Regions from separate parts of the Homo sapiens genome. Here region 2 is reported to be linked to region 1. Evidence: microRNA targets listed by miRTarBase, many of them from high-throughput screens and not tested one by one. Region 1 holds a microRNA gene; the other region holds the end of a gene's coding sequence. Distances are between the middles of the regions.
Evidence for each region. The annotated mature microRNA hsa-miR-675-5p reads UGGUGCGGAGAGGGCCCACAGUG and lies in region 1 at 2,267-2,289, opposite strand. An mRNA with a match to its seed (bases 2 to 7 or 8) in the 3' UTR can be bound and repressed. Matches are read on the target gene's strand: a 7mer-m8 pairs with bases 2 to 8, a 7mer-A1 pairs with bases 2 to 7 and ends in A, and an 8mer does both.

Region 2: miRTarBase lists MICAL2 as a target of hsa-miR-675-5p. The part of its 3' UTR that is shown has no 7-base or 8-base seed match.

The regions. Positions count from the first base shown.
Region 1 is chr11:1,994,534-2,001,793 of GRCh38, forward strand. MIR675 (microRNA 675) reads right to left here and starts at 2,298; the gene lies at 2,226-2,298. It overlaps H19 (H19 imprinted maternally expressed transcript), which reads right to left and starts at 3,309. Exons shown (of 5, transcript NR_002196.3): 1 at 1,985-3,309; 2 at 1,754-1,888; 3 at 1,546-1,658; 4 at 1,343-1,465; 5 at 643-1,261. It also overlaps a transcript of MRPL23 not described here. RefSeq lists enhancers at 2,821-3,668, 3,669-4,517, 4,518-5,364, 6,214-7,061, 7,062-7,260.
Region 2 is chr11:12,261,181-12,268,180 of GRCh38, forward strand. MICAL2 (microtubule associated monooxygenase, calponin and LIM domain containing 2) reads left to right here. Exons shown (of 28, transcript NM_001282663.2): 27 at 1,300-1,357; 28 at 2,380-2,605. The coding sequence ends at 1,340. Among named protein-coding and RNA genes, the nearest start is that of MIR6124, 100 kb to the left of the region's middle.

The DNA of each region.
Region 1 (7,260 bases):
GACCTCTGCCCCAAGGCCACCTGCCCACTGAGAAGCCCACCGGCTCCCCCACAACCCCCTGGCTCCTTGTGCGGGGCCGTCCCTCCGGCGTGGCCCCGGCTCCCACCCACAGCAAAAGGGGAGCAGGAACGGGACTGGCGCGGGGTTCGTGCCCCTGTCGGGGTGGGGTCGCCCAGAGCACCTTGTGGGCCTCCCAGAGCGGCCATGGCCAGCTCTACCCCAGTCACCTAGCCCGGGCTTCAGGGGTCTGGGGCCAGCACCAAGGCGTCATTCTGATGGGACTTTGGGGCGACAGGAGGCACTCGCTCGGGGATGGTTTGGTGGTCCCCGACCCCTGCCTCAGAGCGCAGGCCCCCTCCGCAAGCCCAGCCCCCGCCCAGTCTGTGAAGCCCCTGGTCCCACAGCCCCTCCACTGCCATCACTGCATGCTGACCGCCTGCCCTGCACCCCTGAGGTCCACACACCCTGTGCTCACCCCACCCCTGGTGTGTGCTGCGCTGCACCCATCCCAGAATCCCCCACCCTGGAACCCCCATCCCCCTTTTCATGTACTCCTCCCCATGCCCCCCAGCCCCCCTCTGCCCAAGGCTGGCCTCCCCCACATCATGCCCACAGCCCGGATTCCAGAGTCCTCGAGACAAATTGCTGTAACAGTGTTTATTGATGATGAGTCCAGGGCTCCTGCTGAAGCCCTGGTGGGGAGGGGCACAGAGCGAGATGGGGCGTAATGGAATGCTTGAAGGCTGCTCCGTGATGTCGGTCGGAGCTTCCAGACTAGGCGAGGGCAGGGTGAGGCCTCGGGCACACAGCCGGCGCCCAGTCACCCGGCCCAGATGGAGGGCGGCCGGGCCCTGCACAGGCACTTGCCAAGGTGGCTCACACTCACGCACACTCGTACTGAGACTCAAGGCCGTCTCCACAACTCCAACCAGTGCAAATGACTTAGTGCAAATTAAATTCAGAAGGGACGGGGGAAACAGAGTCGTGGAGGCTTTGAATCTCTCAGAAAAAAGGAAAGACAGGAAAGCTCAGAAACAAAGAGACAGAAGGATGAAAAAGAAGAAGAGGGAGGTGGTGGGGACGGCGTCATCCCGCTGGAGGAGCTCAGCTCTGGGATGATGTGGTGGCTGGTGGTCAACCGTCCGCCGCAGGGGGTGGCCATGAAGATGGAGTCGCCGGTGCGGGGTGGGTGCTGCGGGCGCTGCTGTTCCGATGGTGTCTTTGATGTTGGGCTGATGAGGTCTGGTTCCTCTAGCTTCACCTAGAGATAGCGACACGTGGGTGGGATGGGGGCAGGGTGCTCGGGGGCCTGGAGGCTTCCGGAAGGAGCGCTGGTGCTCACCTTCCAGAGCCGATTCCTGAGTCAGGTAGTGCAGTGGTTGTAAAGTGCAGCATATTCATTTCCAAGCTAGAGGGTTTTGTGTCCGGATTCAAAGGCCCAGGCTTGAGCTGGGTAGCACCATTTCTGTGGATGGGGAAGGAGTGAGGTCCCACTCAGCTCCTCTCGCGTGCCCCCCACCCCAAGTGTGGCAGGAAGCCCCTCACCTTTCATGTTGTGGGTTCTGGGAGCCCAGAGGGCAGCCATAGTGTGCCGACTCCGTGGAGGAAGTAAAGAAACAGACCCGCTTCTTGCCGCAGCCCCACCAGCCTAAGGTGTTCTGTAGAAGACAGAGGTCGGGGCAGTGAGATGGTGGCCCGGCGGGGCGGTCTGGGCAGGGCCGCGTCCTGACGCAGGGAGGGCAGACACGCTCACCAGGAAGGCCGGACGCGCCTCCTCTGTCCTCGCCGTCACACCGGACCATGTCATGTCCTGCTTGTCACGTCCACCGGACCTGGCGTCTTGGCCTTCGGCAGCTGGTGGGCACGTCCACCCCAGCTGGAGACCTGGCTGTGGGGAGAACGAGAGAGTCGTGTGGGGAGAACGTGTTGGTTGTGTGGGGAGGGGCGGGTGGGGGCTGAGGGTGGCAGAGGGGGAAAAACTCACCCTCGTCTCCAGCCCGAACGCTGAGGCACCGATCCCGGCTCCGTCGCCGCCCGCGAGGCCCGCCTTGGCCACGGGCTCTGGAGGCCAGTGCCTCCCGCTCGCCGCCCGCTGCGCTCCTCACCCCTGCCTGCACCATCCTCCCTCCTGAGAGCTCATTCACTCCGCCCCGCCCGCCTCGCCTAGTCTGGTCTCGCCCCATGCCCTTGACTCCCCTGGATGCTGTACTGTCTGCCAAGCCAGCCCCAGGGGCTGAGCGGTGAGGGCATACAGCGTCACCAAGTCCACTGTGGGCCCTCTCCGCACCAGACCCTGGGCCGCAGTGCCTCGTGGGACCGGCGCCCGCAGGCCGAGCCCCTGCAGCCTCCTTGCTGCGCAATGTCCCGGGGCCCCCCTCCCGTGGCCGCTTCGCCCTCCTGGTGACGTCCTGCTGCAACTCCCCGAGCACTGCCTGTCTTCCCGCTCTCCAGCCCTCGAGGCTCCGGCATAGGCCTGAGAAAGCCGTGCCGGAGCTGCCCCTGTGCCTGCTACTAAATGAATTGCGGTGGGTGAGGTGGCAGCTGGGGACCCCTCTGTCCTGTGTCCCCTGCCATGTCCCTGTCTGACCCAGGCCTGGGGTACCACCCCACGTGCTGGACCCTACGCTGGCCACCCCTGTGCTCCCTCCCTGCCCTCTTGCTCTTTCTGCCTGGAACGGGCCCATAACCCCCCAGCCTTGCGCAGTCTCGGCTCCCCCCGAGAAGATGTCACCTTTGCTAACTCTCCTGCCCCCATCCTGCCCCTCTGCTGGGAGGGTGTCTGCTTCTCCCCGCCAGCCCTCGATCCCCTAAACCTCCTTCTTTCAGAAGGCTGGGGAAGCGAGGCCTGGGGAGGGAAGGGACTCACCTGCCCGGCAGATGGGGTCCTCACCTGCCCGCTGCTGCCAGCTACACCTCCGTTGCCCAGGCCCTGGGATCAAACCCTGCCCACCAGCTCCCCTCGTCCAACCAGCTGCCACGTCCTGTAACCAAAAGTGACCGGGATGAATGCCTGGCTCCCCCTTCTTTCCAGCCCTAGCTCAGGCCCATCGTCCCCAGCTGATGTCGCCCTGTCTGCACGATGCCTGGGCGCCTACTCCACACTCCTCACTGGCCTCAGGCCCCACCAGCCCTGCCTCGAGCTAGCCCCTCCACCCGTCATCACTCCTGCCAGACTCCAGATGTCCAAGGTGCTCCTTGGCTCCCACAAGCTCTCCTCCAGCACCCCATCTTCCCCTGGTTGCCCCTCGGTTCCCCACTTCCCCAGTTTCCCCCGTTACCCCCCACCCATCCCACCCCCTCCCTCACCCTGCTCCTCGGTCCTAGCCCGGGCTTTTTCTAACTGGGGTGGCCCCGCCCAGAATTCCCGCCCCTGCCCTGCCGGCCAATCAGAGCAGGGCCCTCCCGAGGGCCCCCGCAGGGCCCACCTCCGCCCTGGACAGTTCCAGCACACGTCTCTCTCACCCAGCACCCATCCTGGAATTCTCCAAAGACGGCCTCCCCGCACCCCTCCTTTGGCATCCGGAGACAGGGCTGAGCATTGCCCCATCACCTCCCTCAGGGTCCAGGACTTCTCCCTCCCAGACCACTGTCTCCCCTCAGGGGACACCATGCCTGCTGCTCCCTGCCTGCCAGCGCCCTGCACATACTTTGCACATGGCTGGGGGCCAGCTGCGGGTCCCTGGGGACTCGGATGGCACAGAGGGCCCCTTCCTGCCACCATCACGGCTCAGACCTCACGTTCCTGGAGAGTAGGGGTGGGGTGCTGAGGGGCAGAGGGAAGTGCCGCAAACCCCCTGGTGGGCGCGGTGCCAGCCCCCCAGGCCGATTCCCATCCAGTTGACCGAGCTTGTGCTGGTCACCGCGGTTTCCGCAGGACAGAGTCCCCACAGCCGCTGGGCACCCCGGTCCCATTCGCGGCCACTTTCCTGTCTGAAGACCGCATGTTGCCGGGCTGTGCTTACGGCTCGCGGGCGCACTCTACTGACAAGCGGTGGGCGGCCTCACAGACTCTCCCAGGCCCGCGTGGGGCACCACGGTTGGGAGTGGAGTGGAGACTGGCGAGTTTCGACTCCCCCAGCCACCCCGCTGTGGGTCCGTCGGTCACCACCTTGGCCTTTGGTGAGGGTTGTTGGGGCCCTGCAGTCCCTGGGGTTCACCTCAAGTCTCGAGTGTCAAAGCCGTGAAGGGGAGCACCAGGGCCAAGGGACCCAGAGTTCACGGGTCCAATCACCCAGCAGGCCCTCTGGGATGTGGAAGGGCTGGCCGCGCCTTCGGCAAACCCTCTGTTCCCATGGCCCCACCGGAAAGGGCTGAGTGCTTGCCTGCTGAGCACTGACCGCCGGGCTTTGTCGTGCGTGAACCCCACGACATGGGGGAATTTCCATGGCATGAAAATTCTCAGGCTTTTCCATGAGTGGACCCCCAAGTTAGGAGACCAAGGCAGACCCCCACATTTTGCTAAAAGTGGAGTCCAGCCTTGGGTCACCTTCAGACTGTGATGTGAGTCACCACTGCCGCCTCTCGGCCATTTCCGTCTCCACAGCCACAACCGATTCTGTGCCATCGCTGGGAGATGGGCTCACTGGGGACAGCACCCAAGACCCAAGGGGAGACTCAGGAAATACTCCGGAAATACAAATGCTCCAGGCAAGGCGGCTCCCCAGGCCCCTCGCTCCTGCTCCAGGCATTGTGGGAGGGGCTAGCACAGGATCCGGTCGTGCTGCCAGCAATGCGCAGGCACGGGGAACACCTGTGGGCAAATTCACCTCTCCACGTGCCAACTACCGCCGGCCGGACGTGATGATCCCTGAGCGTGGAGCACACCCGAGCCATCGAACATCCTAACCCCATCAGGATCCCCACCCCGTACCGAGTCCACAAGCCGCAGGGTGTCTGCTGCACCCACGATAATGGATTATCTCCAGCAACACAAGGATCCTGGACCAGAGAATAAAGCAGCAGTGGCGCTCCCAGCTCTTTAGCATCTTAAGCTCCTGAATTAGCACCTCAAACCTGCATTGAATGAGAATGTTAATGTCTGGCCACTTAGGGCTGAGGAGATCAGAGTGTTCACTGGGGAGGCAATTGTCAGTTCAGTAAAAGGCTGGGGATTTGGGGGCTGTCCTTAGACGGAGTCGGAGCTGTGCTCTGGGATAGATGTGGAAAATGTAAGATTTTGGTGGAACACACTGTGATCATCACATAAGTAGGCGTGACTTGAGTCCCAGGCCATGACACTGAAGCCCTCGGAGTGTGACCCGGGGCCACGGGGCTGTGGATAATGCCCGACCTGAAGATCTGGTGCGGCTCCCATGAGTGTCCTATTCCCAGATGACCCCCGTGAACCCTGCGACGCGTGGCTTGGGTGACCCGGGACGTTTCCACGGGCGAACCCCAGTTGGGGCGGGCTCGGGCTGTGATGTGTGAGCCTGCACTGCCGCCGCGCGGCCACTTCCGATTCCACAACTACAACCAATTCCGTGCCATCCAGGCGGTGAGACCGAAGGAGAAGCCTCCAGAAATACCCATGTGCTATGCAAGAGCCCCCGGGCTCTGTGCCTGCCAGAGACCCTGCGAGAAGGGTTTCACACTAGGGCCGAGATCCCCATCATCCATGGAACTGGGACACCTCATTGTTCCCCTAGTATCTCCTCCCATCTCCCCAACCTTCAACAGTGCACCCTGGGGTGAATCAGACACGTAGCCCGATATGGCTCCCATGAGTGTCCTATACCTCACGACCCCTGTGAACCCTGTGGCGCCCGGCTTGGATGACCTGGGATGTTTCCACGGGCGAACCCCAGCTGGGGCGGGCTCAGGCTGTGATGTGTGAGCCTGCACTGCCGCCGCGCAGCCACCTCCGATTCCACAACTACAACCAATTCTGTGCCATCCGGGCGGTGAGACTGAAGGGGAAGCCTCCAGAAATACACATGTGCTATGCAAGAGCCCCCGGGCTCTGTGCCTGCCAGAGACCCTGCAAGAAGGATCTCACCCTGAGGCCAAGATCCCCATCATCCAAAGAATGGGGACACTTCATTGTCCCCCAAGTATCTCCTCTCATCTCCCCAACCCTCAATAGTGCACCCTGGGGTGAATCAGACACATAGCCCGATGTGGCTCCCATGAATGTCCTATCCCTGATGACCCCCGTGAACCCTGCGGCGCCTGGCTTGCGGGACCCGGGACGTTTCCGCGGGCGAACCCCAGCTGGGGCGGGCTCGGGCTGTGATGTGTGAGCCTGCACTGCCGCCACGCGGCCACTTCCGATTCCACAGCTACAACCAATTCTGCACCATCCGGGTGGTGAGACTGAAGGGGAAGCCTCCAGAAATATTCATGTGCTATGCAAGAGCCCCTGGGCTCTTGAGCCTGCCAGAGACCCTGTGGGAGGGGTCTCACGCTGAGGCCGAGATCCCCATCATCCAAAGAATGGGGACACTTCACTGTCCCCCAAGTATCTCCTCTCATCTCCCCAACCTTCAACAGTGCACCCTGGGGTGAATCAGGCACGTAGCCCGATGTGGCTCGTACAAGGGTCCTACCCCCGATGACCCTCGCGAACCAATGCGGTGCCTGGCCTGTTGACCCGGGATGTTTCTGCAGGCAAACCACAGGTAGCCGGGCTCGGGCTATGACGCCTGAGCCTGCCCTGCTACCACGTGGCCACCTGTGTTTCCATACCTTCAACTGATTCCGTGGCATCTGGGCAGCGAGACTCCAGGAACACTGTGCGCTCTGCTTGGCAGGCTCCCAGGATCCCTGTTCCTGCCAAAGGCCTTGTGGGAAACGATTCCCTCTGGAGCATGCGCTTGAGTCCTTGGGTCCCAGTCATGATCACCTCAGAACACAGGGATCCCTCATTTTGGAAGTCTCTGCTCTCCTGTCCCAGCTTCAGTGCCTGACCCAGGTGATACGGGGCCATGGTCCTCTGATGAGGTCCTTGAGTCTGATTCCAGCAGCACAGAGCCTCCAGGGCAGAGCCGAGGTGAGGCTCTGGAAAATGCACTGTCAGGCTCACACAAGCACATGTTGGCCAGATGTACAGATTCCACAGCACAAGGCAGGCAATTGGGCACAGACCGCACAGTGCACAAACACCATTGATCCCCATCCTTTATCGATTCCACAAACCGCGGGATGTCTGCTGCACCCACATTAGCAGATTATCTCAGCCAACACAAGGATCCTAGACCCCAGAATAAAGCAGCAGTGGCACTCCCAGCTCTTTAGCATCTCAAGCTCCTAAATTAGCATCTC
Region 2 (7,000 bases), 10 Mb from region 1:
CTGCCCAGTGAGCATTGCCTGTGGACATCCTGACTGCTTAGCTGCTCCGCTGCCACACATATGTGGTCAAAACAGAAACCAATTTCACACTGCCCTGGGAAAGGAATGGGTCTGACCTCCAGGGGAAGCTCTACCATATCTTGACTGGCAGGGAAGGCTGGGAGTGGAAGCTATTTATGGACTGATCCAAAGGACATATGCATGAGTAAGGGTAAAAATGAGCATGCAGGTCCACCTGTGTTCTTACTCTGGGTATCTAGAAGAGTCCTCAGCTCTCCCTACTCCACGCTGCCTAGACATACACAGCTGCAGGGTCTGGCTGAACAATCAAGGGGCCGCCAGAGAAAGGCCATCTACGGTGCGCAGTGTATCTGGAGTTGCTGGGCCCAAGATAGCTCTGTGGAGTTATCACTAGAGATGCCTCTGGATTAACTAAGAGGTGTGCCTGGGTGTGGGTGAGGAGTCAGAACCTTTGAGAGCTTTGAGATGACAGTTTCTATGGGGCGGGAAGAAGGAGGTGCATTTCTACAAACACTTCCCTGAAATCCTTGGGAAAAACAGAGGCATGGCCGTGGCCAACTCTGTGGGAACTGGCGCCTCTGTCCTTGTTGGCACTGTTCTCAGTCCGATGACTTGCATTGTGTTTTCTCCAATTTTTGCTGGGATTTTAATGTTCAGCATGGTGGGAGGAACCCTTGATTCCTTTTGTTTGAGTATAGAAAGTAAATTTTTGAGGTCATGATGTGAACGGCCATGTTATTGTGATTATCTTCAGCTCAGGATAGGCTGAGATGCTTTGTGGAGTGTTCCATGAAGCCCGAGTCGGAATCTCTGACTGTCGTGTACAGCCATAAGGAGACTGGTTTGAATTACTGTGGCGAGACAGGGCGTGCCTGTCAGAAATCTGAGATGTTTGTACGCTCTGAGATGTTGAACCTTTCTGGTGGGCAGCACCGACACCCAGGGGTGGACCCCCGAGGATGAATGCCTCTAGGCCTCCGCAACATATTCAAGAATGAATGGGAGACGCTAGAGTAAAATGGGGGCAGAGAGGATATCAGGGAGCAAGATGCAAACTGTGTGCATCCACTCTCGTAAACAAGTAGCTGGTCACAACCAGAAAGGTTCATCTCTCCTAAGCAAACAGCGACTCTTTCAGAGGAAGTTTCCCTCTTTCAATCGTGGCCTTATTTTCAACTCCGGTGCCTTCTCGTGATGTTAATCATTTCCTTTTTTCCCCACACTAAGCTCTCTTTTCTATCTTTCTCTCTCTTTCCAATCTTACGCCATGGCCATCAGTTCATTTCAGCCTTCCAGTGCTACACCCACTTCTTGGCTGACACACTTCTGCTCTAAGGTGACTGGTTTTCTTGCCAATTTTCAAAGAGTGGTACTAACCCCCAACCCGCTTTCCGCACCCCGTCCTCTCCGCCAGCAGTACTGGTTGCACTAACTGTGAGTGTCTTGCATACTGATGGACTCATTTGGTGGCATGGTTGGCTAACAGCATGGCGGGGGGTGTTCAGCTTGAGACCCATGCCTGTGTTCATTTCCCATGGAGCTGGCAGCCTGGTCTACCCCAAGTGCATGCCCCGCCTCTCCTCTCTCCCTTGGGTCTGCCTGCGTGCATGCTTCTCCAGTTGCGTCTGCGAAGCTACCTACTTTCTTGGGAGGGTCGACCTTGATCATGAAACAATACCATGAGGGGGCCTCTGTCACCTTTGAAAAGAACACTTTTTGAGCAGCCTCAAAAAGCTCATACATACCAGCGCCTTCTTAAATTGGCTCTAATGTAAAGATTGTTAATGTCATTTATCAAAACCATAGGTGATTATTTGGAGGGATTTAAAAAACTTAATTACTCTCAGGCCTCATCCCAAGCTTGACACATGCTCTGTAGGTTGAACACATAATCACAAATATTCTAGCAAATGCTGCCTTGGTTGCAGCCTGCACTGTAGACCCAAGGGTTTTGCTGTGGCTCTTCTTATCTCCCTTGGCTCATAAAGCCCCAGATGATGCCAGAGCTTCAATTAGAGCCATCATCATCCCAGGCAGGGATATCTTTGAGAAATGACTCAGTTCAGCCCCAGGCCCCTGTGACTCTGCTTAAAGCACACATTTCTGCTGACTCTTGTACCTGGGGCAGCAGGATAATCACCAACACACTCTTAACGAGAAACAACACACCAAGCACCGTGGAGCTGTCCTAGGCAACACTCGCGGTCTCAGGCTGCGGTGGGCGTCTGTCCTGCATGTGGCCCAGACCACCCTGACCCCCGGGCCTGCCTGCCTGGCCCTGCATGCTGCACGCTCACTGTATTTGTGCAGATCCTGGCCAGTACAAAGTCGTTGCTCTTGTCTTATCTTCTCTTACAGAGTCTCCCTCCCTTTATAGAATGTCAACCAAAGAGTGCCCTCCTCCCCTCTCAGCCTCCTCTTTAGCTAGCCTCCCCATCTCATCACAACGCATGTCTGTGACCTTTGGTAATCATTTACAGTGCCACACGGAACCCTGTATTTTGCACACAGCAAAACAAACAATGTTTAGCTTTATTTATGGTATTTGATGCTGTAAATGGAAATAAATATTGTTCTTTATAAAGCTCATTGTTTCCTCTCTTCTTTGCCGTGGAAGCTTCTAAAACCTCACACACAGGGATTGGTGTAGGGGGTTCATTTTCCCTAAACTGCTGGCGGGACTTGCACTTGAGGTAACACAGGACTCTCTGGGGCTGCGCTGGGCACTCTGAAAGGAAATATTACCCCTGGGTAATATTTGGAAACTGTCACCAATGCTCCTGGGCTAGGCTTTGGGATCTCTTTCTTGAACACTCATTGTACTTTGCTGTTCTAGATGCTGGGCATAGTGGGTGAGGGTCAGTGTCCCCTCAGCGATTAGAAGCAGACTGTATTGATGGCTACCTTTACCCGTTTCCCCCGCACACCCAAGCGTGGCTCTACAGGAGAGCTTTCCCCATGAACCTTACACTAATTTAGGTTCCTATTCAGCAAAGGTTGGTCTGGAACACTTCACGCTGGTGCACAGCTGAGTGGCAAGTGGAAGGTAAGTAGGAAGGACTGGGCATCAATATTAGGATGGCAATGAAGTTGGCAGTGTGCTCATCAGATGGAGAGCCACTGCCATCCTAAGAGACCTCTCCTGTCCCAAAGGCTCAGGGTATTCAGTATCTATGGTGTGAGGCCCTGCCCTAGCACCACCCGAAGTATAGTATTCATGGCAGGCCCCAGGCAACTCCAGGCTGTGTTTAAGGGAAAGATTTGGAGCCTCACTTGGCTATCCTGGGCAGTGCCAAAGTCATCTGGTCCTCAGCCTCCCCTGGGTGGGATGCCTGCCATTTCCTGGCTGGGCGTAGCTGGGCGTAGCTGGGCTTCTGACAGTGGTATGAAAAGTCACCTGTGAACCTCATGAGGTCCCTGGCACCTCCAAATGGGTGTTCCTGAGGCTCTGGTCTCTGATGCCTGGATCTACCTTCAGAGCTGCCTCAGGTCATGACCAAGGGTTCTGTACTCTTACCTGGGTGATATATTCCCACTTCCATTTAAGGAGGGATGTTAGGGACTGTAAGTCAGGTGCTGGGCTGTGCAAGTGACTCATTCCTTTATGCATTCATTTATTCAGCAAATGTTTGTCCTAGGCCTTATTCTAAGCCCTAGGTACAGCAGGGAACCATGCGAAGTCCCCACACCTCCCTGCACCTTAGAGATGTGGCTCAGTATTGCTGTACTAGATGAGATCTGTTATATTTAACTGTGCATGTGCTCATTTGTTTGCTCAACTCTGTGATATTTCCTGAGCATCTACTATGTACTAGGAATACAGCAGGGAGTAAAGCAGACAAAAATCGTCACTTTATTGTCAAAGCGTGACACCCCAAGTGGTGCTTCACCAACAAAGGAGTCCATGATCACAACATTTGAGGAATATTTTGTACTGATCTTGCCAGTCCTCCCCCGTCCTGGAGACTAGCAAGATTCATTAGCATGTCAAGTCTCTGAGGCATCCTTGTAGGGAAGTTTAATCAACTTTGTGAAAGTCAGCTGTCCCATACTTATGTGAACATTTTGTTTTTGTTTTGGTTTGCTTTTTTTGAATATTGCATTCTACATACATAGTTTTGGTAGACTAGTGTTTAATTCAGAGATATTGGATTAAAGACTTAGAATTTTAAAAGGAAAACCATATAATTAAATATTAAATGGAATTAAGTATTGATTAGATATGGGGTGATAACCTTCTAAGCATAAATCCTCTAATAGGAAGAACACCACACAGGGAAAACATGACACAAATCTGATTATATACATTTTTAAAACTTAATGTAGAGTAATAAAATATTAAATAGACCATTAGACTAGGGAAAAATATGAACTAAATGTAATAACAAAGAAGTTCATTGCATGGTATTTTCAAGGTTCATTTAAAACAGATGTTCCTGGGCACCTCTCATAGTGTAGATGATCAGTTAATATTTGTTGATTAAAGAGTCAATGATAAATAGGCAAAGGCTATGAACAGGCAATTTACCCTTAAGCAAATTTTAAAAGTAAACACTAAAAAGAAAAAGCAAGCATTTACAAAAGTATTCCTACTTGGTTTTTAAAGGAAGTAAATTAATTATGGTGCACATGGGCCAGGTGCGGTAGCTCACACCTGTAATCCCAGCACTTTGGGAGGCTGAGGCGGGCAGATCACTTGAGGTCAGGAGTTCGTGACCAGCCTGACCAACACGACAAAACCCTGTCTCTACTAAAAAAAAATTAGCTGGGCACGGTGGCACATGCCTTTAATTCCAGCTACTTGGGAGGCTGAGGCACGAGAATCACTTGAACCCAGGAGGCAGAGGTTGCAGTGAGCTGAGATCATGCCACTGCACTCCAGCTTGGATTACAGAGTGAGACTCTGTCTCAAAAAGAAAATAATAAAAATTATAGTGCATCTACTGAATTAGTAAAGAAAAAAGTAAAACTGTAAGAAAAAAATATGAACTTCATCCCAAGTATTGAGTAAAAAGTAAACTGGGAGAATCTTTTCCTGGGAAGCATTATGGCAACCCTGATTAAGATCCAGAAAAGGGCTCTGACCTCTTGGCCTAATAATTCTACTGCAGGGAATTTATCCTGAGGAAATAATCCAGCAGAAGAAATAAATCTGTGCAACTTGAATGTGTAAGTCGGTCAAGCAGAGTGGGTGGGCTGTTCCCCTTTATTTCTATAAATGCATTCATTTTTACAACTTAAGAAAAAAAAAGGCTTAAGTAAGTAAAAGAAGTTACTGCATCTTTTACTGCCCCCCAGCCAGCTGTTATATAGGGAACATTTTCTCTGTGCCAGGTAGTGGGCCAAGAATTTTATGTGCAGAACTTCGTTAGCTCTTCACCTCCTTGTGGCAACCTTGCGGTCAGTACTGATGTTAAAGAAGCTCCTGATACTAGGGAGGCAGAAGCAAGTCTAGAGCCACATTTTCCACTGTGAAGGGACTGAGTCCCACAGCCCAGGCTAGGAGTCAGGTGCCTGCTCTAAGAGGAACCTCGGTGCATGCTGAGGGCCTGGGCTCCACCAAAGACCAGGCTTTGCTCCCAGCAGTTGGTACTGACTCAGTGGCATTAGACAGGTCCCTTCTGTGAACTGGGGCTAAGGATGCCTCTAGTGTAGGGTTTTTCAAGGTGTCTGACTCTCAGGACAGCAAGATCTCTTTGCCATGTTCTAGATAGCACTTTCCTGATCTTGCACAGCATAGAGCGCCCAGAGGAAAACTTGTCGGGCATTCTCGATTAACTGGGGCTCAGAACGCCTGACAGGACACCTTCAGGTTGGGAACTAGACAGCGGTCTCGATTCACACTGGTGGCACCATCTGCTTTCCTCCAGGTTTCTGATTCCCCAGCCTTCTTAAAGGCAACAGCCACCTCCCTTCGGACACCCAGGCCTCAGCTCTGGAGCTCCCCTTCCCTCCCACCACCTGCCGGTGGACTTTGGTTTTGCCTTAGTGAGTGCCCGAGTCTCAGCAAGGAGGGGGCATAGGCTCTCACTTTGTGCCCAGCTGCCCGCTTGCTCCACACCTGATGTCTACTGGGCATGTCCAGCCCAAATGTCCACTCCAACTGCTGATTTTCCCCCAAAACAGGCTCTGCCCTTAGCCTTCCCCATTTCTGGAGACTGCAATTCCCCTTTTCTTGTTGCTCAGCCCAAAGGCCCTGGAGTCATTCTTGACTCTTCTTTCTCTTGACCTCACACGAAATCCATTAGCAAATTTGAGGAATATCCAGAAGCTGTCCATTCCTCACCACCTCCGCACTAACCACCCTCCGCCACTGTCATCCAAGTTATTGCAGCCACCCCTCTGAGGCCTCCTGCTTCTCCCTTCACCCCTCAACCTCCTCAACAAAACAGCCGGATTATCCTTTTATTTATTTGTTTGTTTGTTTTGAGACAGTGTCTTACTCTGTCACCTAGGCTGGAGTGATGTCAGCTCGCTGCAAACTTCACCTCCTGGATTCAAGTGATTCTTATGCCTCAGCCACCCGAGTAGCTGAGACTACAGGCACCCGCCACCACACCCAGCTAACTTTTGTATTTTTAGTAGAGACAGGGTTTTGCCAGGCTGTTTTCGAACTGCTGACCTCAAGTGATCCTCCCGCCTCAGCTTCCCAAAGTGCTGGGATTACAGGTGTGAGCCACTGTGCCTGGCCTGGATGATCCTTTTAGAATTTATGTCTCACTGCTGCTCAAAACTCCAGCAGCTCTCCAGCTCACTGAATGCAAACTCCATGAGGGCAGGGGTCTTGGTTGCCTTTCAATGCTTGTATAACCCCGACAGAATTGCACTTAGCACATAGTGGGCCCTCAAAAAATATTTTTAGGATATATGCCCTCTGGCCTGGACCTCAGACTGCAGAACATGCAGCCATCTCGGGCTGGGGAAGGTCTGGCTGGCATCCAGCATGGTTCAGGAGGGAGACCTGGAGGAAGAGAAGTCT